Linked DNA regions of Homo sapiens: region 1 is linked to region 2. Evidence: fine-mapped expression QTL. A gene starts in region 2. The other region holds a variant in brackets. All regions are shown on one strand. Distances are from middle to middle.

Region 1 (16,443 bases), 20 kb after region 2:
CTCTGTAGGAGGCAAGACACAATCATAATGCTTCTTGGATATACAGCTAGAAGCTTCTTGTCCCTCTTAAGTTCTGTAGAACTTCATGTATACTCTTTGCGTCCATAGGAAAACTAGTAGAATTCAACTAAGGTCTGTAGCATCCATAAATGGGTTCTTGCCTACTATTAGCAACACTTGATGGATTACCAGAAAGAGATATTGCTCTAAAAGTGAACATTTTTTCACACCCAGAATGGATTCTGGCACCTGATTAAAAACCACAGTGTTAGAGCTGAACAGCTAATCTTATGTCTGCATTACAAGCAGGAAGGAGGAAGGTAGAGACAAGAGCACACAAGACATTTGTTTCCCCTTAAAAAGCTTCCCCCAGCCCCATCCAGTGACCTCCACTTACACCTTTGTGAGAAATGGGTAATATGCATCCCCTAGCTCCAAGGAAGGCTGGGGAGGTGATTATTTTGTTCTGGGAACATTGCCACTCTAAACAAAATCAAGGATTTGTTAGTAAGGAAGAAGAGGAGACAGATATCGGGTAGAAAGTTGTTAGTTTCTATTAACCTTGAGTAAGTCCATTCAACTTTCAGAGCTTCAGTTTTCTCTTCTATAAAATGACTGGTGTTGACTAAATGGTCTCTAACCCCTTCCTGTTCTTAACCCTAAAATCTCTGATCTGAGGATCCCTTTGCCATCTGGCCGCATTAGCTGCCATTCTCCTCCCTGAAAAGATCGCTCTTAAAAAAGGGCTGTCCACCTGATCACTTGCTACTAGAAAATACTCCAGACAAAATATCCTTATCAGTTGCCTAGATTCCTACCCAAGACCAAGAAAGTGGTGGAGGCAAGAGTTTTAGAGAACATAAGTTGGGTCCTGAGCATTTATTTACACCAATGCCTGGTGGTATTTACCACTCTTTATTGTCGTTGTGTGAAGAACACTCTGGAGCATTAAAGACCTTTCAAAGAAGATAGGCATATAAAAATGAAGACCACATTGAAATTTCTTCTGAAATTCTATGCATGCACTCACTTCAAAGACACAGGGTCAAACTGTCAATAGGTACCAAATAAAAGTTGCTTTATTATGTCCCTTTCTTCTGAAAAAAAGATTAAAATCATATAAATTTAAAACTTCACTCCCTAAAAGAACCAAAATTAAGAAAAATGTTAATTCATATTTCTCTAAAAATAAGAATGAAATTAACATGACAGATGCTGCTTCACAGGGGACTTCCCCACCTAAGAGGAAGATATTTAATAGAGGGATTATATGATGTGTGAATTTTTCACACTGAGAAGACCAGCAATATTAAAGGGTCCCTTGCTGTGGAAAATCTGCTAATTGCCAACTTTCATCAAATGGAGAAAATTCTTCAACTGCTCTATTGCTATGCCAATTATTGAAATAAGTATTACATAGAGATTTACAACATTCTATTTTCTCCTTCTGATGGCAACCAGCATAATACATAATAGCTTGAACAAATAACATCAACAAAATACACAATCCAAGTTTTCTTTTTAATGGTGACACACAAATTGTATTTTTGAAGGTTTTGAATTTAAAATCTGTGAAGAATGTTCAGCTTTTTAAGAGTTAGAGACTGAAGAAACCTAAAATATCTTACTTTTAATAAACTCTCACATTTTCTTAGTTTTTATTTCAAAAATGTAAACCTAAAATTTGACTGATACCTGTATTCAAAAAGGTCATTTTAAAAAAAAAATCTTTTTTGAATAAGCTTTATTGAGGTACAATTTATATACCATAAAATTCACTAATTGTCAGTGTACTGCTTAGTTATTTTTATTAAATTATGGATTTGTAAAACCATCTCATAATCTGGTTTTACAATATTGGAATATTCATTTATTGAGATTTTCTTTAATTTTTCCAAGCAATGTTCTATCACTTTTAATGTTCAGATATTGTACTTATTGTATTACATATTGCAAGGTACTCCTTTTAATATTATTGTGAATAAAATTGATTTCTTGGTGTCATTTCTTGGATTGTTAATTACTGTTATATAGAAACACAACTGATTTTTGCATAAGGTTGTGTTTTACAATGGGGCAAAATTCACTTATCAATTCCAGATTTTATTTTCAGATTCCTTATAATATCATCTGTAATTAAAGACAATTTTATTTCTTCCTTTCCAATCTGTATGCCTTTATTTTTCTGCCTTATTACTCTGGTTAGAACCTCCAGTAGAACCTCCATTGAATGCATGCAGCAAGTGTGGGCATCCTTGCCTTATTCCCAATCTTGGGGAAAAAGCATTCATTCTTTCACCATTAAGTACTGATTGGTTTGGCTACATTCCATGACTTTTGATTTTTTTAAAATTAAGTTAGAAATATTTTTAAAATTTCCTATTGTGATTTTTTTGACCCATGGGTTATTTACAAATGTGTTAATTTCCAAATTATTTCAAATTTCCAAATAGTTTAGATTTTCTATTTTTCTGTGTGTTGATTTCTAATCCAATTCTGTTTTGAGCAAAGATCATCCTTTGAATGATTTTAATGTTTTTAAATATATTCAGGCTTTTTAATAGTCTAATGTGGAAGTCAGCAACTTTTTCTTAAAGGGTAAGATATTAATGAACATTTTAGACTTGAAGCCATATAATTTCTGTTACTACTTGGCTTAGTACGTGTTGCTACAAAAGATTAGCCTGGGACTGGATAATTTATAAGGAAAAGAGGTTTATTTGGTTCATGGTTCTGCAGACTTTACAGGAAGCATGGTGCCAGCATATGCTTCCAGTAAGGCTTCAAGAAGATTCCACTTATGGCAGAAGGTGAAGGGAAGCTGGCATGTCACATGGCAAGAGGGAGCAAGAAAGAAAGGAGGGGGGGGGTGTCATGCTCATTTTAACAATCCGTTCTCATGAGAACTAATAGAACAAGAACTTAACTCATTACCACGAGGACAGCACCAAGATACTCATGAAGGATCCACCTCCATTACCAGAATAGCTCCCACTGGACCCCACCTCCAACATTGGGGATCAAATTTTAACAGTAAATTTGGAGGGGACATATATCCAAACTATATCACTGCTCAACTCTGCTGTTACAGGATGAAAGGGACCATTGACAATAGGTCCACAAATAGGTACACAAATGAATGTGGACATGTTTCAATAAACATTTATTTATGAAAATAGGCAGCTGAATAAGCACATGAAAAGATGCTTGACGTTATTAGTCATTAGGAAAATGCAAATCAAAACCACAATAAGATACTACCTCATACTCACTAGAATGGCTAGAATCAAAAACAGAGAGAATAACAAGTATTAATGACAAAGTGGAGAAATTGGAATGCTCTTAGAATTCTTAGAACTTAGAATTACCATATGACTCAGCAATTCCACTCCTAGTTATATACCCAAACGACTTGATAACAGGGACTCAAACAGATACTGGTACACCAGGGCTCATTGCTACATTTTTCACAATAACCAAAAGGTAGAAACAACTCAAGTATCTGTCAATAGATGGATAAACAAAATATATATACATATAATGGAATTTTTTCAGCCATAACATGTAATGAACTTTTAACATTTGCTACAATATGGATGAACATTGAAAACATTATGCTAAGTGAAATAAGCCAGAAATAAAAGGATAAATATTATATAGTTTCACTTATATGAAATATCTAGAATAGACAAACTCATAGAGACAGAAAGTAGAGGGGCTGGAGAGAGTCTGGAATGGATTGTTTAATGGATAGAGTTTACATTGGGAGTGACGAAAAAGTTTTGGGTATAGATAGTGGTAATGATTGTACAACGTTTTGAATATAATTAATGTTACTCAGTTGAACACTTAAAAATGGTTTAAAAAAAACTAGGCAGCTGCCCCCTGGCCTGTAATTTACTAACCCATAGCCTAGAATATCACCTATTTTGGATGATATTCCATGTGTGCTTAAGAAGAGTGTATATTCTCCTGGTTATTGGATGAAGTATTCTACAAATGTCAGGTAAAGTTGATTATTTCTCTCTCTCTCTCTCTCTCTCTTTTTTTTTTTTTTTTTTTTTTTTTGGTGACAGGGTCTTGCTCTATTGCCCAGGTTGAGTGTGGTGGTGCAATAACAGCTTACTGCAACCTCCACTTCCTGGGCTCAAGCCATCCTCCCACCTCAGCTTCCTGAGTAGCTGGGACTACAGGTGCATGCCACTACATCCAGCTAGTTTTTCTTTCTTTTTTTTTTTTTTTTTTTTTTTGTAGACATAGGGGGTCTCACTATATTGCTTAGGCTGGTCTTGAACTCCTGGGCTCAAGCAATCCTCCAGCCTTGGCCTCCCAAAGTGCTGGGATCACAGGCATGAGCCTCCATGCCCAGCCTTAACAGTGTGTTTTCTCCAGAAATTTATTACACACAATCTTTGGCCTAAAGAGAGCAACAAAATTCCTTGGGATTGTTTGTGTCACAACAAAGGATCACTCCTTGTCTTAGAGTTGCTCAAATGGTAGAATTAGAACAGTGTGCACATATCCTAAAGCTATCCTCATTCTCAGGGGATGATATTTCTCTAGCAAGCAAGACTTTGCCCAGGAACAAGCCTAGGATGGCCAGCCCAGGCTATCACAGGAGCCAGTGGCCTCCTAAGACATGCTGTTGAGCACATGGCCTTCATGTCCCTCTGTGCCTGAATCTCAACTAGATCTACGGAATCGCAATGTGCCAATATTATTCATTCATTAAATAGTCCATTAAATATAAGTCACCACCTACTGTGTGCCTGGCAGTGTCTGGCAATGGAGATTCAGCAGTAAACAAAATAAACGAGACTTTTAAAATACAGATGTCCTTTTAATACCATGCTGTGTTTTGAAAGCTTTTATTTTGTATGGGGCTTTTTGATGCTACGGCAATATGATCTTGGTAGGTAGGGCAGAACCTTTATTTCCCTGCAGGGTACACAGTGAAATGATACACCATTTCTTTCCTAGGAAATGAGATATGTGGAGATCATCAGTTAGTTTGTCATTAGATATGGTAGAACCATATTGGATAACCAGTGTTCTCTTAACTAAGGTCCTGACTAGCTATTCACCCACTCCCTCCCCCCACTTCTCTCTCCATCAACCCCCACACTTTCACATTAGGTCAAAAATTCTTTGGGCGATGACAACTTCTATAGGTACAAGGAAAGTAGGGTTAAGAGAGAAATCTGCCTCTGATCAATACAGCTGCAGCATCATCATAAATAATTTAACCACTTACTCTGTTTTTAGTTTCTTTGATCTGCTTCTCTCATCTTGCCTGGTTGTGTTACTGCCACAAAAGTTTGCTCTTTGAGAGGATGAAGAACCTTCTAGTCATACCTCAGTCATCATCCTGGGGCAAAGGTCCACTTTGTATTACTCCTCCTGCCTCATGCCTCATAGCTAAGCATCAATGTTTTTTTACCATTCTGAAGGTTCCTGGGTGTTGCTTTGAAATGTTCTAAACCAGAAATAATGAGGTTTCTTATTAGGCTGACCCTAAGAGCTATCATCCTGTTGTTCTTTATTTATTTTAGAAGATTGCTTGTTATGTGGGTGTAGAGGGAGGCAAGCTAGAGAGAGGAAGAGGGATAATTTATAGGATCTCAGATTCAGTTCGAGTATTCCTTTTAGGGGCAGTGAGTGAGGAGATAGGGTATATTAGGAGGTAGTAATTAGTATAGTGTTGGCTACTGTCTGATGGACAAACATGTAGTTCATTGGCTCCAGCAAAATGATAAATCATATCGATTTTTCTATTTTGCCACTCACACATATTTTAAAAATCTTGTTGTGCCAGGGTTCCTCAATAAAAGGCACAGCTCTTATCTCCATTAAATTGAAATTTAAAATGTTAATAACACCAATATATGCTACCGACTTATTGATTAAACTGAGTATTTGGTAGAGCTTGAGCACTGTTGTTCTAGCTCTACCAAAAAGAGGAAAATATCTGGGAAGAAATTCACAGAATAGAAAAAAAGTGCTAAGAAAGGATTCTATACACATCACACCATAAAAATAACATTGACTTTGAGAAGCAGGAAGGACAAGTTCTTGGCAGAGAGGCTGGCATCTTTTCATCTGTCCCTAAATTACACACTGATCAGCCAATGCAAGGTGGGGAGCTATGATTTTTTTTTTTTTTTTTTTGAGATGGAGTCTCACTGTGTCACCTGGGCTGGAGTGCAGTGATGCGAACTCGGCTCACTGCAACCTCTGCCTCCCAGGTTCAAGCGATTCTCCTGCCTCAGCCTCCTGAGTAGCTGGGATCACAGGTGCATGCCACCACGCCTGGCTAATTTTTGTATTTTTACAAAAAATATATCTATTTCAGCATTTCACCAGCTTGCTAGGGGAGAACTTTGTGTTTCACAAGGCATTTGTTTACTCTTGAAAAGGAAAATTGTTGACATTTTCCTTCCAATATGCTTATCTTTAAAGATTTATAATATAAAATATTCTCTGTGTGATACATATTTATTTGAACTATTTGAATTTCCTATAATTCCAAAAGGAATTTTACCTTTCTTTTTCAGTATTCTATTAAGACAAATTTGGTTTACCCTTATGAAAAGAAACACTTTTTATTTAACTGTAAAAGTACTCATTGAGTAAGAGTAACAAGCTTTAAATAATTTGTTACATATTATCCCATTTTTTGGTTAATAATGAAACAAAAATGACTATCAAATATTAAGTGTTAATATCTAACACATATTTGAGTCCAAAAAGTGTTTACTCAATGAATAAATGAACAAATGAATAAATATACTTACTTTACAATGGGAGAAACTGAGGTCAAAAGAAAAGTATTAGCCACAATCTAGTATACTATAATCCAACTAAAAACTATCTAACTATCTAATTCAAGTATTGTTTTCCCTTGTTTTATTTAGAAGACAAATGAAAGCTTTAGTACTGAACATTTTGAAACAGAAACCCGAGAATAATGCCTTGCGGGGAGAAAAGCTTCAGATTAAAATTTCGGAATAAAAATAAGGAGAAAAATAATTTTACCCAAACACCACTTTGCCTTTCCTTTACTCGTAAATTCAAGAGTCTCAAATAACCATTTAAATACTGTGAAGTTAAAGAATTTTCTTAATTATAAATAAATTGTGCTTAAGGGAAACCTGGAAGCTTTAGTAAGTTTCTAATTTTTAAAATTATGTGCACCACCTTATTTATATTTTCTAAATGACTATTCCAAGTGGGAAATAAATACAGTAATACAGTTATGTCTTCACCTGCCAACCAACACCACAGTTATGGTCCAATGAACTGTATTTTATGGTATATAGGTTCAATATTCACTTTTCCTCCTTCTTTGTAACAGAACGTTGAGAAATGTGCCCAACTTAAAAAGAAAAGGAAAACTCCTTTTGCAGCTTGCTTTGCAGAAAGGGTTGACCAATGAGGTATCAATGGGAGTTTTTATGTCCAGCTTCTGGGAGAGCTCTTTTGCCCTCTCTTTCCTTTCCTTCTAACTGAAATACAGTTCTGATACGTGGCATCCAACCACCATCTTGGACTACTGAGGAGAACCTGAGGATAGAAGTCATTCACTAAAATGGCTGGAGAGGAAAGAGGGAAGAGCCTGAATCTAAGGATGGTGGAGCTTCCATTCCAACTGTTGACCACCTACCTTCTATCTTCATTTACTCCAGAGACAATTAAACTATAACTTGATTAATTGATTAAACCATGTTATTTGAGTTTTCTCTTACATACAACCAAGCCTAGTCACAACTAATATAGCCATGTTATAGCTGTGAGACTTTTAGCAACTCATTTCTCTATACCTCAGTTTACTCATCTGTAAAAATGGACCCAATAACAGTATTGACTCAGAGAGCTGTTATAAGGATTAAATGAGTTAATATATGTAAACAGCTTAGAATTGTAGCCAACACAGACTAAAGACTCAATGAATCCTCTATTGTTACTATTCACTTGTACCACCTATAATATAATACCTGCAGAATAAATGAGAAAAGGAGTATGAAGAGGAGAAATAACATTTGTTTCCCACCGCCTTCTTCAGAGATGAAAGACCTGGGTAAAGAGCATAACAGAACATGTAACACATCATCCTTCTCAATTAAAAGCACTTTGCAGATTACAGGTCATTCTGTAAAGATACTCGAGTTGTTCTAATCCTTACCAGAGCTCTGAGATGAGGGTGAAAGTTGAAACTTGCTTAAGTCAACAGGTCATTTGCTTGCTGGCTCAAGAGCTGGAGCCCCAAGTTCACTGTTCCAATAAAGGCCAAGTTGGCTTGGTTCTAGTTCATGACCCTAGGCACGACAGTATACTTAGCTTTGGTTAATTGTCCTCTGAATAGGATTCTAAATTTAAATCGTGTGGGAGAAGACATGAGGAGGTCTGAGCCATGCTCCTGAGAAGCTCCAGGCATCTTCCTTCTCCTGCTGTGACTGGCTCCACCTGCCAGCAGGTGTGTGGGGGTTGTAACTAAGCCTTTTTGTTTTTTAAAGGGAAATTTCCTGAATTTTTTCAAGGAATCTATTTTTTCCTCCAGCTAATTTATTTAAAAGCCTTCTGAGCCTTTGGGTCTTAACTTTAGGATGACTCCCCAGTGAGCTCTGTTCACATCTTAATATAATAATGATAACAGCTAATATTTTTTAAGCTCTCATTATAGGTGAGGTACCATTTTAAGTGCTTACTCATATCATCCTACTTAATCCTCACAAAACTCCGCAAAGTACTATTGTATTTGCCTTTTACAGATAATCACCCTGAGGCACAAACAGTGGAGTGACCTACTTACTCAAAGTCACTAGGAGGGGTGGTGGCAGAGCCAGGTGAGACCCCATGGTCCTAGCCACCACCCAGTACTCTTGTCTCATATTTAAAAACTCTCCACTATCTGCCTTTACTTTTCAAGCCTCAACCACTCGGAAGGGCCTGGGCGTGTTTCTTTGCTCAGGTGCCTTTGATTGTGGTCATATTTGAATCTTGTTATTCTACATGCCAGTCTTCCATTACTCACAAAAGATAATAAAATCCCTTAGGTGATGTCTTCCACTGCATCAGCTACCCAGGTTGTTCTGTAACCTCGAACTCCTGGGCTCAAGCACCCCTCCTGCCTCAGCCTTCTCACTCGTGGGGTATCCTTTTTCTTCCCCAAGCATTGTAAACTTATCCCTAGACTCCACTTTTTAAATCCTCGTCTGGACACTAGGGCCTTTTCATTGTGTTAGGGAGACTCAGAAAAGGAAAATGTTATAAAAGACCAGTTTTCCCTGATGGCTAAACAATTAGTGGCATAATTTACCAAAGAATTGTAGCCTGTGAGACACAAGATGCTGAATACAGCCAAGCAAATACTTTCTCTACTCTTCTTAGCTTAGGAAAGTGGATATGAAAGGAAGGATGTTAACTGTCTCAGGCTATGTCATGGGCATTTGCCTTTGACAGAAGGACCTCCTAGGATGAGGGGAGGTGGTGCTGACAGCAAGCAGAAGGAGAAGAGGACCCAACAGCTGGCTGCTCTTCATCCCTCAGAGAATGGCATGGAAAGAGAGCAAATAATTTCAAAATACATGGAAAAACATTTAGATAGCACAGGCAATTTATTTGGAACCTCCATATCAGGAAATTGCTTCTCTAATGCAGTGACTTACTACTGAAAAGAAAAAAGTCTCTCATGTTTGCAAAATGGGCTTTGTACAGTGCCTCACACTGAGACCTAGAGATCTAATGAGAATGTGGATTATTAAATTTCTCACAGGGAGGAAAGGGGCCCAGGAAGTGTCTCCCAGATCTGGTTCACAGCCTAAGGAAAAAAATGCTTATGCCTTACTATCAAAGGGTAGAAGAAAATAGCATTAATCTCCATTGTCCTGATTAATCACTCCTAAAGGTATAAACAGAAAGTTCAGGTCGGTTACCACCCTCCTAGGAGTGCCAGCATATTTTACAGTCCACAAAATCCGGCGCAAATCTCCCTTCCCCATTCATACCTCAGAGACAGAAGAGTAAGCCAAGTTATTTGAACTATGATTTTGCTATTCGTATATATCAAAG[C/T]GCTTTCATGTTCTCACAAAACTTGAGTTCCCGAAAGTAAGATTGATGCCCTGCCAGGAAAATTGGCTTTAAAGTAGTCCCACTACTGCTATTGAGTAAACCTTTCAGAAGAGCCCTCAAGGCTTAAGAAATCAGACATAGCAGAGCCCCTACAGAACTAAAACACATTTCCCCCTAACCAGGATTCACCTGCACTTCAGGCTGGGACTTTTTTCCTAGGGCTCAATACTCACCTCCTGCCTGGCGAGGTATCTTTCCTCCCAAGCTCCCTCAACACCTTTTACACATCTGTCGTGATACATAACTTCTTGTACTGAAATTGTCTATTGATACATTTGTCTCTCCCCAATTACACCACACTGTCCTTGAGCAGCAAACAGAATCTTTTTCAGTTTTATTAGGTTGGTGCAAAAGTAATTGCAGTTTTGCACTGCAATTACTTTTGCACCAACTTAATAGCTTCCCAGTGCTTACAATACATAGTAGGTGCTAGTTAATATTTGTTGAATTTAATGGAATTGAATTCATCTGGCCAGTTTTCCTGCCCAGCCTGGAATGGCACTGGAACAAGTACCATACAAGGCTCCACACCCAGCTATGCTGCCATTCTGGTGACCTTTACTAAGCCCTTCCCTATGGCAGATATCATTACTATATAACCCAGGAATCATAAAAGTTGCCACCTGGATCAGTAGAAACAATAAAAACATATATCCCTGTCTATAAAGTGCCCTAAGCTCTTCAGAGGAGAGAACGATGGGTTTGGTTCAAGGTTTCTATAAAGAAGATGGTATATTAGCCAGCACAGTAGAATCCCACAAATACGACAGGACTTTACTACATGGTGTATACTTTTTTTAAAAAAATAAGCTTTTTAATTTAGAAAAGTTTTAGATTTACAGAAAAATTGCAAATATAGTACAGAGTTCCCAACTATTCTGCACCCGTTTCCCCTTTCATTGACATCTTACATTAGCATGGTAAATTTGCCACAATTAATGAGCCAATACTGATGCATTATTATTAACTATATTCAGATTTCCTTAGGTTTTACCTGGTGTCCTTTTTCTTTCCAGGATCCCATCCAGGATACTACGTTACAAATAATTCTCCTATCTCTTCTTGGCGGTGACACTTTCTCAGACTTTCCTTGTTCTTGATGACTGTGACAGTTTTAAGGAGTACTGGTCAGGTATTTTGTAGGATGCCCCTCTTTTTTCTTTTTTGAGGTGGAGTTTTGCTCTTGTTGCCCAGGCTGGAGTGCAATGGCGCGATCTCGGCTCACTGCAACCTCCGCCTCCCGGGATCAAGCGATTATCCTGCCTCAGCATCCTGAGTAGCTGGGATTACAGGCATGTGCCACCACGCCTGGTTAATTTTTTTGTATTTTTAGTAGAGATGGGGTTTCTTCATGTTGGTCAGGCTGGTCTCGAACCCCCGACCTCAGGTGATCTGCCTGCCTCGGCCTCCCAAAGTGCTGGGATTACAGGCATGAGCCATCGTGCCCGGCCAAGAACATGATTTTTAAAGTTGACATATACCAGCTAGGAATTAGAAAGAACTTCTTAGTATCTAAAAAAAAAAAAAGACTGACCAATATCTACATTTTTGGTGGGTAAAAAGCACTGAACAACAATTTACTAGACAGTGTTCATATCAGAAGATGTTTTCTTCCATAACTTATTTTGACATGGTTTAGTTCCTCATTGCTATCACTTTATTATATAAACTGACCATTAAAATACATTAAATCTTGAAAAGATGGACCTTGATTTTATATCTGGTCTGAGTGATAAGAAATGGATTTATATGCTCTCTGGCATTTTGTGAAACTGGCCACAAATCAGAGGACTACAAACAATTATTTTGAAATGACTTACAAATATTATATACATTATCATTTTTAAGAGGAAGTAATTTTCCAGCAGAAATGGCCAACAAGATTACCTGATTTCTCCAATAAGCATGAATTGCATACATATCATGTACTGTGTTTACCTCCTAGAAATTAAAAAATGGGTAAATCAAAGATACTGACACCAAGAGCTCAGAGACTGCTTGGGAAAATAGAGAATAAACAGAATTATGGTACAATGTGGTAAGTACCATAATAAAGGCACATAGTCAGAACTAGGAAGCAAGAGGAAGGAAGGCTTTATAATAGGCTGGTCGCTCCCTCTGCCTAGATCTGCTGGGGCAGGTGAAGCTTGGCTTTTAAATTGAGAGTTGAACGATAAATAAGAGTTCAAAAGGGCAGGTAAAGAGAATTAATTCTAGGCTAAGAACCACCTGTGCAAAGGCACTAGGGTAGCGAGTACAGTGCCTTCAGGTGTTAGATACTTTACTATCATTGGGTCGGAAAGAGGCAGTTACCAAAGATGAGGCTGGAAAAATAGGTAGGGAGTAGATCTCCAAGGCCTTTTAAAGCATGCCACGGAGGTAGACATTACCTGTAGACCAACACTTCTTAAATTTTAATGCTCATATGACTCATTTGGGGACCTTGTTAAAATATAGATGCTAGCTGGGCACAGTCGCTTGCACCTGTAGTCCCAGCTACTCAGGAGGCTGAGGCAGGAGGAGTGCTTGAGCCCAGGAGTTCAAGGCTGTATTACACTATGATCATGCCTGTGAATAGCCACTGCACTCCAGCCTGGGCAGCATAGATAGGTCTCAGGTGGGGCCTGAGCGTCAGCTTTTCTAAAATGCCCCAGATGATGTCCTGCTACAATAAAGTTGGTCTACAGACCATGTGTTAAGTAGCAAATATTTACAAATTACAAATTCTATTACCTGGAATGAATTCTATATACTAAGACATACCTTCAGCCCTTGAAAGGAACTGGGACACGATTCAACTAGAGCTTCCAGGATGGTGAATTCTGCCTATAAGTTGCCTCCTGGGTTTACTGCGGGTGCCCTACAAATGCAATAATTTTTTTCGACATGTTCTATGATGTGAAGACAGTGGGGAAGCAATGTAGCACAAATAATCCAGTCAGTACTATAAGAACCACAATTTGGTTTTTTCGGCTGCGGGGAGAGGAGTGCAAACAGTCCCAGTTACCCAAAGCAGCTGATATTCATTGTCAGCATGGCCCAGAGCCTTTTTCCCCCAGTAGTAATCATTTGGAGATTGAAATCTTGGCTCCAGTTCACCTCTGCAGTGGGACTTAATTCATGCCAGACTGTGGTGGTTTCTGCAGCAGTCCAACTCTGCCAAGGCTCAAAGTCCAAAGATTCTGTCATGCAGTGGCAACAAAGGAGGAGTAGAATTAAAACATAAAACTCTTGTTCTATGACCTTTCAGTTATTATTGCTTAATTATTTTTATGAGATTATAAGTCATTTTGCCAAGTCACTCCTTAGCCCTTTTTGAAACTGTGACAATGATTACTAATTTGGTCACTTTTCCTAACAACCTATAATAGATATTTGGAATAGGAAAATGTGAGACTGTATGAAATGAAAGAAATGTGAATTTCTGTGGAGTCAGTTGGCCTTTAGGTTAACGTTGTATATAAGTATGTGTGTAGGAACATAGTCACACATATGAGATTGTACCTGCAGGTCAATTTCTAGAAAAGAAACTGCTCACAGGTGTTGCCTCTGGAGAGAAGTGGGGAATGGGAGAAGGGTCAGCTCTGCGAGATCTTTTGGGCAATAGTACTTCTTCTATTCTGTTTTAAATTTTTTTCTAATATGATGGCTTAACTTAAAAAATACCAAAGAAAGAACTGTCTCAATGACTGAAAAGTATGATAATACTTGCAGGTTTGGGTAATATAATACCTTTCCTCTGGGTCATCTAGTATTGAAACTCTTTTTGTACTGTGTTTAAGGAGAAAAGATTAATGCCTTTAGGTCCCCTGAAGTTTAAGCCCAGTTTAAGCTAAATTACCTAAAGTTTGTTAGTAAGGAAACCAATTTTTGAAATAAAAAAATTCCCCGTAAGAATTTTTTTCAGTTGTTTTCTCAGTTGATGATTTTTGCCCCCTCTTCAGACAACAGTGAAACATAAAATGAGATGCAGCATTACAAAACGAAAAGAACTGGAGGGAAAAACATTTGCTTTTGATGCAGTCAAGCATCTTCATTGATGCCCTTCTGTCCACTTTCTCTCTCCCCCAACTATAATATCATAGAATGCTGAAGGAAAGCACATTCCAGATACATGTTGTGTAGACTAGCAACATTTAATGGATAACTTCCATTATGCTATTACAAATTTACAAGCATAGAAGAAGCATTATCTTCCACAAATACTATGAGTATTAAACACTCAACAGTCATAACCCAGTTTGCAATCTCCTATGACTTACATAAAATTTCATCTTAATAAATTGCAGTGAAAATAGATGGCACACGGGAGGTAGGACTAAATTGCAGCTCCGACTCAGAGCAGCATGCAGAGGCTCTCATCATGAATTTTGCTCCAGAACGACTGCGAGAACAAACCAGAAATCCAGAGAGGACCCACAGAACATCTGAAGAAAGTGGACTGCTCCTGCAGGACCCAGGAGACACCCAAATACTGTGCTGGAATCTATGGCTGAGAGACTTATAGACGGTTCACATCGCAGGACTCTGTGAAGACAACCTGAAGTACCAGCCTGGAGCCGGGTAGACTTGCTGCATGGCTAGACTCAGAAGAGAGATAACAATCACTGCAGCTCAGCTCACAGGAAGCTGCATCCATAGGAAAAGGGGAAGAGTACTACATCAAGGGAACACCCCATGGGACAAAAGAATCTGAACAGCCTTCAGTTCTAGACTTTCCCTCTGACAGAGCCTATCAAAATTAGAAGGAACTAGAAAACCAATTCTGGTAATATGGCAAAACAAGGCTTTTTAATATCCCCCAAAAATCACACTAGCTCATCAGCAATGGCTCCAAACCAAAAATTTACCTGAAAAGGAATTCAGGAGCTTAGTTATTAAGCTAATCAGGGAGTCATCAGAGAAAGGCAAAGCCCAATGCAAGGAAATCCAAAAAACGATGCAAGAAGTGAAGGAAGAAATGTTCAAGGATATACTTAGCATAAAGAAAAATGTAATAAAAACTTTAGGAAACATTGGACACACATAAAAATGCAAAATGCTCTAAAAAGTCTCAGCAATAGAATTGAAAAAGTAGAAGAAAGAAATTCGGAGTTTGAAGACAAGATCTTAGAATTAACCCAATCCAACAAAGACAAAGAAGAAAAGAATAAGAAAATATGAACAAGGCTCCCAAGAAGTCTGGGATTATGTTAAATGACTAAACCTAAGAATAATTGGTGTTCCTGACGAAGAAGAGAAATCTAAAAGTTGGGAAAACATATTTGGGGGAATAATTGAGGAAAACTTCCCCAGCCTTGCTAGAGACCTAGACATCCAAATACAAGCAGCACAAAGAAGACCTGGGAAATTCATTGCAAAAGATCATTGCCTAGGCATATTGTCATCAAGTTATCTAAAGTTAAGATGAAGGAAAGAATCTTAAGAGCTGTGAGACAAAAGTACCAGGTAACCTACAAAGGAAAACCTATCAGATTAATAACAGATTTCTCAGCAGAAACCCTGCAAGCTAGAAGGGATTGGGGCCCTATCTTCAGCCTCCTCGAACAAAACAATTATCAGCCAAGAATTTTTTATCCAGCGAAACTAAACTAAACATCATATATGATGGAAAGATACAGTCTTTTTCAGACAAACAAATGCTGAGAGAATTTGCCACTACCAAGCCACCACTAAAAGAACTGCAAAAAGGAGCTCTAAATCTTGAAACAAATCCTGGAAACACATCAAAACAGAACCTCTTTAAAGCATAAGTCACACAGGACTTATAAAACAAAAATACAATTTAAAAAGCAAAAACAAATAACAAAAAACACAAAGGTACACAGGCAACAAAGAGCAAGATGAATTCAATGGTACCTCACATCCAAAGTTGTTTGAAAAGACTTAAAAGCAGTGCTTCCTGAAACTCATTTTTCTGCTTATATACTATAATCCTCCCATTTAGAAATTACTTTTTAAGGTTTCATCTATAAGGAAGGTAGGGATAAAATATAAACGTTTGGCTGGTCATGGTAGCTCATGTCTGTAATCCAAGCACTTTGGGAAGATGAGGTGGGTGAATCGCTTGAGCCCAGGAGTTTGAGACCAGCCTGGGCAACATGGCAAAACCCTGTCTCCACAAAAAATACAAAAAATTAGCCAGAGTTGTGGCATGTGCCTGTGGTCCCAGCTCAAGAAGCTGAGGTGAGAAGATCGCTTGACCCTCAGAGGTCAAAGTTGAAGTGAGATGAGATTGCACCACTGCACTCCAGCCTGGGCAACAGAGCAAGACCCTGTCTCAATCAATCAATAAACGTTTTCAATATAACTAAC
Region 2 (16,443 bases):
CTCCACAGTCCCAAACCACACTCTACTTCTCCAATAAGGAGTCGTAAAATCAGTTGGCTGCTGTCACTTTGGGCTGATGGTTTTCTTACAGTAGTTGAGCTAAAGGGAAAATCAAATATTTATTGTCTCCATATTTACAGCGAAAAACTAAAATGAAGGAGAGTCCTATATTTATTATGCCTGGGGCTCTCTTCATTAATGCACCCGTTTGGCCCTGCAGCATCTAAATTTGACACCTGATGTAAACACATTTAGTGGCAGAAGTCTGATATACTTAGCCCATTTCATTTCTGGACAGCCTTAGTGGGGTGTGTGTGCGCGTGTGTCTTCTTTCATGCTAAGTTAAATCTGCCTTCCTATTCCATCTACTCATTGACCTGGAACCTCTGCTAGAGATATCCAGCATACTCATTCTATCCATAAGAAAACTATCATATTCTGCAGTCACCCCTTCTCATCTCCTGTAACTGTTCTTTACAGAGAAAAGTTTTCAAACTCCACCATTCTAAGTTTCCCCTCTCAGGACATAATCTAACTTCGTAGGGTTCTTCCTAAAGAAGAGGGAGAAACATCCCAGTAATGCTATTTCGGATCTAGACAGTGAAATGTATGGTGTAATGGAGCTCATATTCCAAAAGACAAATGCCATTATTACTGAATATAAGCCATTGTGGCACTCTCTGTACAAATCCTGTGGCAGAGGTTTCTCATTCAACATCCATTCAACAAATATTTATTAAGCATCTACAGAGTACCATGTCAGGTAAATTCCTGAAAACAGAAAATCATTCATCTTGTTCTTCATATGAATCACATAAAAAACTAGCCAAATCTTAACATTAAAAGCCTACAGAATTTTGTGAAATATGTATATAAGTGCAATCTAATTATAAGTAGAAATATCTAGTACATAACTAAAATTTTATTTGTTTTTGCTAAATATTAACATACAAAAAGTTTTCTTTGGTCAATCAAGCATGGGTTCCCAATTAGCCAATGAAGATCTACCAGCAGAATATCAAGTTTTATCTAGTAGGACTGATTTCAAGGGATGCTGTCTTTCCCTCCTCAGTGCGCCAGATTGGCAGCAAGGGAGGAAACATAAAGGTGATGACTAGCCATTAGGTAGTCCCACTCCTTAACTCTGCAGTATTTATTTTCCTATTACCATATATGAATGTTTTCCTAGTTAGTATTTCAGTAGTCCATTATTCTATGTATCAAGTACATTGCACAGTCAGAATAATTCCTAAAGACAAACATAGCTTTTTTTTTTTTTTTGAGACAGAGTTTCACTCTTGTTGCCCAGGCTGGAGTGCAATGGCGCGATCTCGGCTCACTGCAACCTCCGCCTCCCAGGTTCAAGCAATTCTCCTGACTCAGACTCCCAGGTAGCTGGGGTTACAGGCACGCGTCACCACACCTAGCTCATTTTGTATTTTTAGTAGAGATGGAGTTTCTCCATGTTGGTCAGGCTGGTCTTGAACTCATGACCTCAGGTGATCCACCCGACATGGCCTCCCAAAGTGCTGGGATTACAGGTGTGAGCCACTGTGCCCAGACTTACAAACACAGTTAATAAGGAGTTTAACACAAAGTTCATGTTCAATATCCAATATCTACTTCAAGTATGTATCAAAAGACGAGAGTTCATTTTGACATTTTAACAGTGGGGGAGGCCCCTTTATAACTACAGTTTTAATTTATTCACCTGGAAAAATTAACTCTCAAGATGACAAAAATAATTTTCCTTCCAGTTACCACTGAATATATATCTATAAGCTTACCCCCACTACCATCCCAGCCCACAGTTCTAACACATACCTGGTCTGTTAATTCGGTCAATTTTATCCATACTAGGGGAGGGGAGCCGAAGTCGAGGACTGCTTTGATTGGAGTTGTCTGATCCCACATCGTTGAATGAATCATCGAGAGTCAGCAGGAGTTCTTTTACACATTTATGACAGATACTATGTTGGCAAGGGAGAATCAATGGGTGGGTAAACAGCTCCTTGCATGCTGGGCAAATGAGCTCCCTTTCGATATTCTTAATGGTAACCTTGAGAGTAAAATAGTCCAAGTTAAAGGCTCTTAGTGGGTAAATATATTAACATTCTTATACCTCCTGAATAAGTACATGTGTTTATTTTTCCAAAAAGAATTAAGAAAATGATTTTCTAAATTTTAAATTTCTTTTCCCCAATAAAATTTGATACCATCAACTGCCCTCAACACCCATAACCCAGAACTGAAGGAACATGAGATAGTAAAAGGCAAAAATGAAGAGAAAAATTATGTAAAATATTAGGGGACCATGATATTTTATCAAAAATTATAAAGCCATCATTCGAATCTCCATCACCAGTGCACTGATTTAGGACTTCGGTGAAATCCTAAAAGTAGATCATGTCAATAAAAATTTTGAATACAGCACTAAGAGTAAGACTATATTCTTATTTAGTGAATTAACACTGTGACTGACAAATAACAGGAGCTATTAAACACTAGCTGAGTCAGTATGTTCATGGAAACCTAGTTGGTATCTATTTACAAGCTGAATTATCAGCAATTTTCTACATTAAATGCGACCATTCTTCATTAATGCCTGAGGTTCTCATGCTGTATATCAAAGCAATTATCTTAAAAGCACTTTATGAGTATGTATTAGTCCATTTTCACACTGCTATAAAGAAAATTACCTGAGGCTGGGTAATTTATAAAGAAAAGAGATTTAAGTGACTCACAGTTCCACATGGCTAGGGAGTCCTCAAGAAACTTACAATCATGGCAGAAGGGGAAGCAGATCTGTGTTACGTGGTGGCAGGTGAGAGAGAGCAAGAGCAGGGATACTGCCTTACAAAACCATCAGATCTTATGAGAATTCGCTATCACAAGAACAGCATGGGGAAAATCTACCCCTGTGATTCAATGGCCTCCCACCAGGTCTCTCCCTCAACACCTTGGGATTACAATTCAAGATAAGATTTGAACCTAACCATATCATTGTGGCCCTGGCCCCTCCCAAATCTCATGTCCTCACATTTCAAAACCAATCATGCTTCCAAACAGTCCCCCAAAGTCTTAACTCATTTCAGCATTAGCTCAAAAGTCCAAGTCCAAAGTCTCATCTGAGACAAAGCAAGTCCCTTCTGCCTAGGGGCCTGGAGAATCAAAAGCAAGTTAGTTACTTCCAGGATACAATGGGTGTACAGGCATTGGACAAATGCTCCCATTCCAAATGGGAAAAATTGGCCAAAACAAAGGGGCTACAGGTCCCATGAAAGTCTGAAACCCAAAAGGACAGTTATTAAGTCATAAAGCTCACAAGTGAGATCTCCTTTGACTCAATGTCTCTCATTCAGGGTACGCTGATCCAAAGGGTGGACTGCCATGGCCTTGGGCAGTTCCACCCCTGTGGCTTTGCAGGGTACAGCCCACACACCACCTGCTTTCATGGCTGGCATTGAGTATCTGCAGGTTTCCCAGGCGCATGATGAAAGCTGTTGGTGGATCTACCATTCTGGGGTCTGGAGGACCATGGTCCTCTTCTCAGAGCTCCCCTAGGGAGTGCCCCAGTGGGGACTCTGTGTGGCGGCTTATATCTCACATTTCCCCTTTGCACTGCCCTAGCAGAGGTTCTCCATGAGAGCTTCGCCCCTGCAGCAGACTTCTGCCTGGATATCCAGGTGTTTCTGTACATCCTCTGAAATCTAGGCAGAGGTTTCCAAACCTCAACTCTTGACTTTTGTGCACTGGTAGGCCCAACACCATGTGTAAGCCACCAAGGCTTGCACCCTCTGAGGCAATGGTCTGAACTGTACCTTGGCCCCTTTTAGCCACAACTGGTACTGGAACAGCTGGGACACAGGGCACCAAGTCCCAGTGATGGCAGCTGCAGCCCATCTGGAGCAGCTGCTGCAAAGATGCTGGCTGCAGTTGGGAAGGCACAGCCGGACCTGCTTGCTCTGCAGAGCCAGCGGGACCCAGGAACAGGCAGGAGCCCTTCTCCCTTCCGAGTTGGTGCGGAGGGAGCCCCATGCTCCTGGGTGCAATTGCAGCCACCCAGCTGTGGACTAGGGCATTCCTATGCTCTCGGGGGCCCAGGATGCCTCTCTTCCCCCACATGCTCAGAAGTGCCTGCTCCTACTGCTTGGCCTCTCCCCATTCCCAGTGCCCACTCTGACTTTGGAGAAAAGCTGTGGCCAAGCCCGGGCACTGACATGACCTGGCCAGGTGTGTGTGTGCTTGAGGAGATGCTGACACACCAGCCCCCTGCCACCTCAGCTCCCTCTGGACTTTGGGCGCTGATGAACGTGGGAGGGAGGCCAAGGGCAGGGCTGAGGGTGACTCAACGTGGTACTGCAGGCGTCCCTCAGCTAAAACAGTCTGGGCACCATGAACAGCAGTGGGAGGGAGACAGGCTCCTGGGAGGAAAGGGACAGGTCCCTGCTGAAACCCCACCTTCAAGCCAGGGATAGCCTGAAGCCTAGGGTCCAGGCTGCCAGTTCCACTGACTGGAGTGAAAACTTACAGTGAATTTTCCAGGCCCACCCATGGCCACCCATGGGCCAATCAGCACACACTTCCTCCCCTCTGAAGCCCATAAAAACCGCAAACTCAGCCAGACTCTGGCAGATGATAGGACGACCTGCCTGCAGGTAAGAGCTACCCACTTGGGTCTCCTCTCCACTGAGGACTGCACACTCGACAAAATGACCTGCCTGCAGAGAGGAGGTACCCACTCCGGGTCTCTTCTCTGCTGAGAGCTGCAGTTGTCGGGAGGAACTGCCTGCAGAAAGCAGCTACCCATGACAGGTCTCCTGAGAGCTACTCTTTTGCTCAATAAAGCACCTTGTTCACCCTCCAGTTGTCCATGTAGCTCATTCTTCCTGGACACAGTACAGGAACTCTGGACCTGCCAAATGGCAGGACCAAACAAGCTGTAACACAAACTGTGTCAAATACACCCTGCTGCTCGCCATGTTGTGGGTGACGATGAGGAGACAAGAGAGGAGAGAAGAGCTGCAGCCCTTCAGGGAGCCTGGACTTAGGAGCTCCCCAAGCCAGGGCTGTGACATCCTCTTTGTGGCTCTGCAGTTGCCGGCATCTCCAAGTTTCTGGGTGCCACCATGTTCCACAGTGCTTGTAGTGGGAGCCACTTGTGGTACACCTGTTCCAGCCACAGCAAGGAGCCGGCGCCCATACTGGCACCTGGACCTGCCTGCCCCGCCACAGCCACCATGCCTGGCTGTGCACACTGTACCCCGCGCTCGCTCACTCATGCACCCCTTGCTGCTCTGCACCTGGCTTGCCGTTGGCAGCCGTGGGATCTGGGCCAGTAGTGAAAACCAAGCACAGCCTGCTGGGTCAAGTGGGCAGAACAAGCCCAGTGGGCCTGAGCAAAACTTGGGCAAAGGCAACACTTGCCACAGAGGTTTCTGGCTGGTGAAGCGACACCCTAAGGATCCTGTGATACCGAGGCTGCACACAGCAGCAGGGCCCTGGGCCCACTCCACTAAAACATTTTTCTCTCCTAGGCCTCCAGGCCTGTGATGGGGCTCTCTTCATTAATGCACCTGTTTGGCCCTGCCAAACGGAGGGACTGCTGCCAAGATCTCTGACATGTCCTGGAGACATTTTACCCATAGTCTTGGCAATTAACATTTGAGTCTTTTTTACTTAAGCAAATTTCTGCAGCTAGCTTGAATCCCTCCCCAGAAAATAGGTTTTTCCTTTCTACTCCATGGTAAGGCTGCAAATTTTCCAAACTTTTACGCTCCGCTTCATCTCTCTCAAGTTCAAAGCTTCACAAATCTCTAGGACAGGGGCAAAACACTGCCAGTCTCTTTGCTAAAGCATAGCAAGAGTCACCTTCACTCCAGTTTCCGACAAGTTCCTCATCTCCATCTGAGACCACCTTGGCCTGCACTTCTTTGTCCATACCACTAGCAGAATTTTGGTCAAAACCATTCAACAAGTCTCTAGGAAGTTCCAAACTTTCCCACATCTTCCTGTCTTCTTCTGAGCCCTCCAAACTGTTCCAATCTCTGCCTGTTATTCAGTTCCAAAGTCACTTCCACATTGTTGGGTATCTTTACAGCAGTGCCCACTACCTTGGTACCAATTCTCTGTGTTAGTCCCTTTTCACAGTGTTATAAAGAAATACCCAAGAGTGGCTAATTTATAAAGAAAAGAGATTTAATTGACTCACAGTTCTGCATGGCTGGAGAGGCCTCAGGAAACTTACAAATATGGCAGGAAGGGAAGCAAGCACGTTTTACATGGCAGCAGGCGAGAGGGAGTAAGAACAGAGAATACTGCCTTATAAAACCATCAGATATTGGGAGAATTCACTATCACGAAAACAGCATGGGGGAAACCACTCCCACGATCCAATCACCTCCCACCAGGTCTCTCCCTCAACACCTGGGGATTACAATTCAAGATGAGATTTGGGTGTGGACACAAAGCCTAACCATAACAGAATATTAAAAGAATGTAGGGGACCCTTTAAAAAGGTGTATAAGCACCACTACAACTGCTCTCAATACTACAGCCTTTCATTATTTTAAGTGAGAAGCATTTTAGACTCATCACAACTAAAAAAGTTTGATGACCTCATACCAGTTTCCCCATCATTTCTCTACGTAGTTTTTTCCATGTATCCCAGACTTCATATCTATGAATCCTATAGTCAGCATCCCTGCAATTTTAAAGACAGCCCAACTTCAAAGTACTTATAACCTTGTACAATCATTTCAGCTACTAGAAATACACAGAAAATTAAAATTGACTTAACTAAATGTAATGAAATTTTAAAATGTATGCTAACCTATTCTCCCTAAAGTGACACCAAGTGCTTCAATAATCTCTGACAATTTAACTGCATTAGAGCCAACTGGTTTTATCATTGTCAGTGGGTGTTTCGATGCAGTCTCTTGCTGCATCACTCAAATATGTGATGAAGAGCCATATCACCTCCCAACTGTTCACAGATTTGGAAATAAGATAACTAAACCTCACAATTCACATCAAAGAATACAGAATATTCACATCCTATCTCATTTCACAAAGGGTTTGGCACCTAATTCAAAAGAAAATCTTGTCCGGGATATCCAAAATAGGTTCTTACATTCCATTTTATGTATAAATATGGTCAGTTCAGGTTTACTTGTCACTGGGGGAGGATCTAAAATCATTTCCATTTTCTTGTACATAAAGCAGTGTCTTGAATCTGACTTTTTAATCACAATGGACATAAAGTATTTCTTACCCAAGAGAAAATTTAGTTCATCTGTCATTGAGGGAGAAACAAACTGATTAAGTGTGATGTGGCGGCTCCCTCAATTAAGCAGTTCCTCGAGAAACTTCGGAAGAATTGCACATTCGACACCTTTAAACAAAAACACTTGTAGGCTGACAGCTGCCGGGGCCCCGGCCCGCCCCCCGCGGGCAGGCGAAGCCGGGGAGGAGCCTCTGGCCCAGGCGGCGGCAGCCGGCCGGGCCCGCGGGGGTCAAGACGCCTAGACAAAGGGCGGCCCCGCAAGCGCGAGGGACGCGCCCCAGCTTTCTGCCCGCACCCGACTCCCAAACGCTAATTAATTCTACAGCCTGAGCTCCATTAGAGAGACCCTCCATGATTCCCCCGAGGTGCTCAGGTGGGCAACCATCGGATTTGCGCTCTTCTCCGGCCCAGGGGACCCCACGTCCGGCTCTCGGGGATAGAAAGGGGACGCCCCGGATTGCGGAACCTAGCCCCGGGCGGGAGAAGGCGAAGAGGAAGCGGGATCCCCACACGCCTGCCTTTGCTCTCCCGGGAGGAGGCTCCCTCCGGGCTCCCGGCGGAGGAAAGAGAAAGAGCCGCGGTCGGCACACCGCCCTCGAGGTGGGGGCGGCGGTCCCCTCCGCACTCACCGGCGAATCTGAGCCATCGCCCTCCATGGCTGCCTTCTGCCAGGTGTCATCAGCGGCACGTTCCACTCACACCGGCTACCGAGCGCAGGGTCTGGTGGGCGGGTCCCTGCGGCGGCCGTGGAGCCTCGGTCCGAAGCTGGAAGATGAGCTGGTCAGCTGTACGTGGCCAGCGGACCGACGCGGGGAGAAGTAAGCCGGGGCAGGCAAAAGCACAGGCGCGGGAGAAGCGAGCTTTGCTCCCAGCGACTACCCCGGGAATCCCGCCCAGCTGCCGGCTGCAGCAGCGGCTCCTGCGGACTGCGGCTGGGAACGGCGCCGCGCAGAGACCTGGGCGGGGCACCGCGGGGCGTGGACAGGGCGTGGCCTGGTCGTTGCCCAGGCAACAGCGCCAGTCGCACAAAAGAGGCGGGGCCGCCTGGGGCTGGTAGGCCGGGTGTCTGAGTGGTAGGCTGAGCGGGACTCGGCTGGGCGTGGGTGTGGCACGCGGTTGGGACTCGGCGCCCTCCGCCGCCACCTTCCCCCTACGCATCAGCCCCTCCCTCCCACCCGGGTAGTCGCCCGTCGCCCTATGCCAGGCTGGGGGGCTCTGAGGAACGGAAGTGAGGGCAGCGGGGAGCGGTGGGCGGGTGCCGAGGGCGGCGCCGGGGCGGGGAGGCTCCGCTGCAGCAGAGCAGCCGGCTGCAGCCCTGGCCCCTGGCCCCTGGCCCTGCGCTGCCATTCCGCCCTTCAGTTTGCTCTCACTGCGCTTTCTTCACTCGCGGTTCGAAGCCCCGCTTCCAGGCTCGGCACAGGACGGTGCGGGCGAGGGCGAGCCTAAGCCACCTTCCCTGAATGGCCGCGGCGAGCACGGCAGAGCTGCGCGAGGCGACCAGAGTGAGACCCCGCCCGCCCTCTCCGCGGTCCCTAGCCAGGCGCGGCCTGGGGTTCCCTGGCCCCGCCCGGCTTGTCCCAGTTCTCTTCTGGCTTCACTTGCTGGGTGAACTTAATAGTCCCTGACTGGGCACCGAGCAGTCATATCCCGCTTTCTGCTTCTATACCCCCAAGTCGCGATGTCACCGCACGTTCTTGCCCAGTAGCGCGGGGACCGCCTGCAGGGTGGAGATTCCTCTCCCGGATGCTGGCCAGGGACTGAAGTTAAAAGGCCGCGGCAAGGGAGAGACCCCCCGCCACCCGGGCCTACGCTTTCCTTCCTGAGGGCCAGGACAGAGGGTCCTGAGCGGCTCCGGCACCCCCGCACCCCCGCGGGGAGTGCTGCTGAACGTTAAGGCGCGCGCCAGCTCAAGGACTGGCGGCGCACATTTCACCTGCCACGGCCCAAGTGTGTTTCTGGTGTTGTTTTCAGGACACACGGAGAACAAATTAATTTAGGATTATTAGATCACGCACTGCCTTTCTGGCTAGCTAAACAATTCATTCCTATGTATTAGGCTTTAAGAACAGATGCCCTAAATTGCTGGGTAAGTAGGGACTACAGAGCTGTAGCGAGACATCTCGTTTAGGTTTTAAAATGCTTCCCACTTTTATTTCCTGTTTGGGAGAAGTCTGTCGCTGTGGCAAGTTCCGTCGTCTTCCCACAGCCCTGTCTGCAGCGGTAGCCTCGTCTCCAATCCGGCATCTAAATAAGGAGTGTAGAATTAAAAACACTGAGGGACTATAGCAATTTTCTCTAATGGAATACCCTCCATTTACAGATGAGGTGAACAGAGGACGAAAGCTTTGCCAGGTAATAATGCCTGGGCTGTTCTGATCCGGATTAATGCCCGTTGCGTGGCCGCAGGTGCTAGACTTGGGAAGGCTTCCTTCCCACAGGTTCTGAAAAGTGCTAATCAGGAGGAGACTAACAAATGCCTGCGTGAATTAGGTGCCTATATATATATACATATATTTAAAGGCTCAACCATTAGAAAGCATTATAAGTCTTTCTCATACTGGCCTTTGAGCTAAATAATTCCCCTTGGGCTGTAATTTCACATCCGCACACCTGCTTTGATCCAAAACTTATTAGTTGACACAGTAAAAGTGATTAGAAGGCTCCATTAACAGGAATTAAAGATAAAATCTGTATAGACAATATTTTGGTGAAAATACATTGCTATGGCCTTCCATTTTGCAAATCAGACTTCACTGAGCTATCATTTTCTACCTGATCCACAAAATTCAAACATGATGTTAATATACTTGGCAAGTGTTAATACACTTGGCAAAACTGTGTCTCCAAAAAAATAAAAATACTTATGCAGTGGGCACAACCTTACCATTATCACCCCAGCACAGGTTTTAGTTGTGTGAGCAACTATCTATTCATCCTTCTGAAACAGATCATTTGGTGGTATTTTTGTTTTGGTCCCATGAGATGTTTAAGACCTTATATTAGTCTAGATTTGAGGACTTTCTAAGCCTAATTCTTTCAGAGTATAAGTGTCTTCTTGTTTTAATTTTGTGTTTGTAAAAATTTTTGAATATTTTTGTGCCTCAAATATGTTCAAAGTTTAATAATTCACCAAGTAATGGTATCATTGCCTATTTCTCTATCAAAAATACAAGATTTACAAAGCCTCTCTTATTTTGCTCAAACCTTTTTGTGATATCGTATGTTGGTACAGCTTATCTCAAGGGACATTTTACAAATCCTATCAAAAATTTTAAATATTTTTACCTTTTGACTAAGCAATTCCACATCTAAGAATGTTCCTACTGTAATACTTGCATGTGTGCACAAAAACATGTACAAAGAGCTTATTGAGACCTTATTTATAACTAAACATCATGCATAATATACATTCATACCATGGAATACTATGCAGCAGTTAAAATCAATGTACTGATGAGAAAGGATTTCTAAAATATAATGTGTGCAGTGGCCCACACCTGTAATCCCAGCGCTTTGGGAGGCCGAGGCAGGTGGATCACCTGAGGTCGGGAATTCGAGACCAGCCTGGCCAACATGGTGAAACCCCCCCTTTACTAAAAATACAAAAATTAGCCTGGCGTGGTGGCACACGCCTGTAATCCCAGCTACTCAGGAGGCTGAGGCAGGAGAATCACTTGAAACCGGGAGGCAGAGGTTGCAGTGAGCCAAGATCGTGCCACTGCACTCCAGCCTTGGCGACAGAGCGAGACTCTGTCTCAAAAAAAAAAAAAAGTACAAAACCATAAGGATTCTGAATGCTGCCACTCTGGCCAAAAAACTAGGTATATCTGATTACAGGCAAACAAAAATAAGCATCTGGAATAGAGCACAAAATATGATAACCATTGTGGAGAAGTAAGGGATGGAGTTAGGTATACAAGATTTAACTCTTCACTCACATTGTATTATCTTTCCATCTTATATGTACATGTTATAGTTCTAAAACTTTTTAAGGTTAAAAATCCTTTCTATCCATAAACTTTTAAAAACAAAAGGTGAGGGGAAGAAGACAAATACGAAAACTGCCATTTTAAACCACTGCTTTCCCAGTTCCCTGATCATTTCTGTCTCCCTGGGCTGCCGTGCTTTGTGTCAAGTCATCAACTTCTCTGTTTCAGCATCGAAATATCCCAGCCTCCCAGGATACCAAGACCCTTCCCAGTTCCTCAAGTTAAAATCCTGGTGGGTTTTGTTTGCTTGCTTTTTATCTTCCTTTCTTCTTCCCTGTCTATCTCTGATCAGCCTTAAATCATAGTTTGTTACCAGATTCTGTTCTTTCTCATCCTCACAGCTGATTCCTGTGCCCACTCTAAGCCCCCTCTCCGCATGCCTAGATTACAACAGTAGCCTATAAGTTGAGTATTTACAGATGATTTTCCATATGTGTAGCCCTGTCCTCATGCCTCTATTTGCACAAGGAGCAGAATAAGCTACAGTCCTGGACCACAGGCAGCTTGGTATTGGAACATAAGGGGGTGGGGGGTGTGTGGACATGTGTATTTGAATGTGTGTGTGTGTGTGTGTGTGCGCGCACGCATGTGTTGAAGAGCAGGAGTTAGAGGGTGGTAAACCTGTGGTAACAAAATAAGTCTGGTAAAGTATGGAAGGCCTCTATGCTTTTGTAGATGTTGAGCAGCTTTTGAAGGCTTTTTAGCAGGAATGGCATGAAATATCTGAACTTTAAAAAAATCATTATTCCCCTATTTTACATTGTATATGCTGTCCCTTGGTGCCTATTCCTCCGCAGTTTGGAGTATCCTAGCACCTCCTTTTTCAATAGTTTATTTTAAAATCTGGGTTAAAATGCAAAACAAGAAAACCTATCCTATTCTTATCCCCCTAAGTCCACAGACCTTCAATACTCTTGCCTTCATTGTGATATCTACTTTTCTACTTCTGGTATTACTTAATTGCTCTTCTATCACAGGGGCATGAGCTCTCTCACATCCATCTACTTCATGAAGTCCAAAAGGTCAAGATTCCCCTCTCCAAACACACACAATTCAGGCTTTGATAAAACAGAGCCTCAATCAATGTTCATTGCTTGATATTTAAAATATAAACCCCTTACCCTATAAATCATATACTACTCCATAAGCTGACTTGGTCTTTTTCCATATTGATTCCTAATACCCAACAAGAGATTAAATTCATGGCTGGGTCAAGTCCTAATGACCATGGTGCATATTAATTGGTTTGCTCTGAGATCAGACAGGCAGGGTACCACCATTCTATTGGTATATACTAAACAAGAAATAGAAACAAGGTAATATGGCCACATATTCCCTAAACTCTGCCCCCTTTTGGGAACCCCTAATAATTAAGCAGCCATAGGTATAAAATCAAGAGAGCACCTGGACTTACAGAAAATAAAAAGTACAGAAATAAAGTAAATTACAGGGTTTTCCAGTAGATTGGCACACGGACCACCTATACTGCTGGGTATCAGGAGGTTACCAGTAAAGGGATAATGAATGGTATTGTCTATCAATTATTGACTCAAGCTACTGACAGGCCAAGCTTACCAGTCATAAAGTGTTTCTATGGGAACAAAGTCAGGGGAGAGGAGTCCAGAGAGCCAGCAAGTTCAGATTTCCACTACCTGGCCAAATCCTCCTCATCTTTCAAGTTGCACTTCTGGAGCCTCCTTTATTAGTTTTGATTTCATTGATTATCTCCCTCTATTCTGAATTCTTTTAGCACTCAGTTTAACACAAATACCTAGTCTTTGTACACTGATGTTTGATGTTTTGTCTTCTCGACCATTTAAGCTTTTATTTAAGACAAAATCTAGTAAGCATTTATCTACTAAACAGTAGCACCAGAGCAACAATTTGCTATTAGGAAGATGAGAGGAACCCAGTGCTGCTCTCACGGACATTTTTCCATTAATGATGAGTGTATTAGCTGCATAACTAGTGGGCAAAGAAGTTTTCTGGCCAACTTGAGGTAAACAAAACTGGTAATATTTTGAGGCAATCTAGCAGGTCCCTCTCTGTTGACCACATCTTATTATTCTTCCCTGTAGGGTTACTAGATTTAGTAAATAAGAACACAATACACCCAGTTAAATTGGAATTTCAGATACATGATAATTTTTTAGTATATGTTCCAAATATCACATTGCACATATTCTAAAAAAAAAAAAAGTATTTATCTCAAATTCAAATTCAAGTCTACATCCTGTATTTTATCTGTCAGCCCTACCTCCACTTCTTAATGATCACAATGTGGATATAAGGTGTCTCAAGGCCCAACCCTGTTGTCATAAAAGCTAGAAGTAATAGCTTTCATTTATTGAGGGCCTATGATGTGTCGATAACAGTATTAGGAAACCTGCATAAAAGATTCATTTAACCCTTGCAGTAACCCTGTGAAATAGGTATAATTCTTTTCAGAGAAGACATGTAACAACTAAAATTCCTCTCCACCTCCGCCCATAGATTAAGTAATATGCTTAATCTATGGGCTATATACTACATGGCCATATACTAAAAAGCCAGGATTCAAACCTGGGTCTCAGTCCAGCATCCTTATTGCACTGCCCACAGGTGAGTATACAACACAGAATTTACAATTTCACTAAAAATCTGATTTAAACATCCTTTTACAAAGTAGTTTAGGAGACACCTTTTTTTTTCAAATTATCTTTAGCGCAATATAGTAAAAAAAAATAAGAGGAAAATTATATTTATGAAAGTAGCTCTTTTCAAATGATATTACAAAAATCTAAATCTTCTGCCTGCCTTCCCTACTCCCCACAGCACATACATTTCACCCAATTTCAATACATATATTTAAAAAACCTTTAAAAAATACTTTGTAGGCCGGATGCGGTGGCTCACCCCTGTAATCCCAGCACTTTGGGAGGCTAAGGCAGGTAGATCACTTGAGGTCAGGAGTTCGAGACCAGCCTGGCCAACATGGCGAAACCCTGTCTCTACTAATAATACAAAAAATTAGCCGGGCATGGTGGCGTGTGCCTGTAGTCCCAGCTACTAGGGAGGCTGAGGTAGGAGAATCGCTTGAACCCAGAAGTGAAGGTTGCAGTGAGCCTGAGATTGCACCACTGCACGCCAGCCTGGGCAACAGAGTAAAACTGTGTCTCAAAAAAAAATAAAAATAAAAATAAAAATACTTATGCAGTGGGCACAACCTTACCATTATCACCCCAGTTTAGATTTTAGTTGTGTGAGCAACTATCTATTCGTCCTTCTGAAAGAGATCATTTGGTGGTATTTTTGTTTTGGTCCCAGGAGATGTTTAAGACCTTTTATTAGTCTAGATTTGAGGACTTTCCAAGACTAATTCTTTCAGAGTGTAAGTGTCTTCTTTTTTTAAGGTAAAGTTTGTGTTTGTAAAAATTCTTGAATTTTTTGTGCCTCAAAGATGTTCAAAGTTAAAATAATTCACCAAGTAATGGTATCATTGCCTATTTCAGTATCAAAATTAAATATAAGATTTACAAAGCCTCTCTTATTTTGCTGAAACCATTATGCTCTTAGATGTGCCTGAACAGTAAATATTAAATTATGGGAACCGAATGTACCTTCTGGCTATTTACACATAAATGTAAATATGCTAAATACACAAAATACAAAGAGATATACTAAAATTTGAATTCTATATTCCTTGTCATCAAATCTTCATTATATGATTCCAGAAGCGGTGATAAAAAAATTAGTGAGGCAAATCTTACAAGAGACCAAAACAGTTGGAAAATACTGCTTTGAGTAACCTTAGATATTGACCACAGATTTGGAAACCTCTCTTTTAATCCAAAGAGATTAGCTGCAAAAGAAGCGAAAAGACAGCTTTCAGAAATGGTAAAAGTTTCACTGCTAGTGAAATGTAAGGAAATACATTTTCATTTTTAAGCCTCTTGAGAATGATCGTAAGTATTAACTACACTTATGCAGTATTGTTTGATGAGCAGAAAGGTCACAATGGCAGATATCACTGTGTACTTTAAATATTAAAGTAGCCATCACAATAGAGTAAATAAGCTGATCCAGTTTGTCCTGTAGGTTTTAGGTTACCCTAAGAAAAAAGGCTTACTTCCCACATTTCAGAGAACATACGGTATGCTAATTTAATTTGAAATAGACACACAAACTGCTGCCACTGGGGAAGGAATGAGATTGGAGGTGGGCATGAACTTAGACTTTTTACTCTGTGAACCTTTCTGTGAAGTTTGAATACTTTACAACAAGCATATATTCCAGGTATTAAGTTTGTAAAAATGTAAAGCTATGTATTTTTAATTATGTACAGAGCTTGAGAAGTCCAGTACAAGGATGAAACAAATCTGGGGGAAAAGTGAGAGAAATTAAGAGGATGGTTAACTCAGTGGTCTCAACTTTGAGGGATGGTGGGGCGGAGGGCAGGCCAACTACAGGCCTCTACTCTCTTAACTCTCATAATTAGACCAGTTTCCCATTATTCTTTACATTACAAACCCGAACTACAAAGTGGAACCGAACCCCACAGAGGAAAATAAAGCAAGTCAGTCTCAAAGGTCTGCTATTCCATGGTTAATATTCAGTGTTCAAATCCTGTATAATCACACACAAAACAGGGGTCTTAAATGGGCTAGTGCTGGGGCTGCGGGGCGGGGCAGGATTTGAGCCTGAGGAGAGTGGTAGGAAATAAGCTTACGTTGAAATGGTTAGGAGCCTACTCCAGACCAACTCTCCCCCTCCAACCCCCACAAAACAGAGAGAGGAATTGTCCTAAGTTCTTCTTGGGAGAGACTGCTTTCCAACCTCAGAGATTTCAAAGGGACAGCGGGCCTCTCCACCTTTAGAAGTCAACCGGGAATGCTCATGGGTTTGCTGCAGGCCCATTGCTGAAGCCTAGTGAAGAGAGAGACAGAGAGAGAGAGAGCAGAGAAATCCAGTAAATGAAGCCAGAAAGTTAGTTTGTGTTTTTTCATTATAGTGAGCATACTGTGATGAACCCATTGGTATTCTGAGAGGGTTTTGTTTTTGTTTACCTGACTTGATTATAAGGAGTTTTAATGGTTCTGCCCTACTTCCCCATTTCGTGTTCATAGGACATCCATCAGTCGGCTTCATGGTCACCTGGGCTGTTCTTCACATGCAAATCCCTGGGTCCTA

What was found.
Region 1: its variant is fine-mapped to the expression of TRIM36 in lung (TOPMed, PIP above 0.99).

Annotation. Positions count from the first base shown.
Region 1 is chr5:115,181,627-115,198,069 of GRCh38, forward strand. No RefSeq gene overlaps it. Among named protein-coding and RNA genes, the nearest start is that of TRIM36, 20 kb to the left of the region's middle. The variant C/T (reference allele first, on the strand shown) is at 10,069.
Region 2 is chr5:115,161,694-115,178,136 of GRCh38, forward strand. TRIM36 (tripartite motif containing 36) reads right to left here and starts at 8,215. Exons shown (of 10, transcript NM_001300759.2): 1 at 7,915-8,215; 2 at 1,825-2,059. The coding sequence starts at 7,941. RefSeq lists silencers at 7,391-7,480, 8,211-8,630.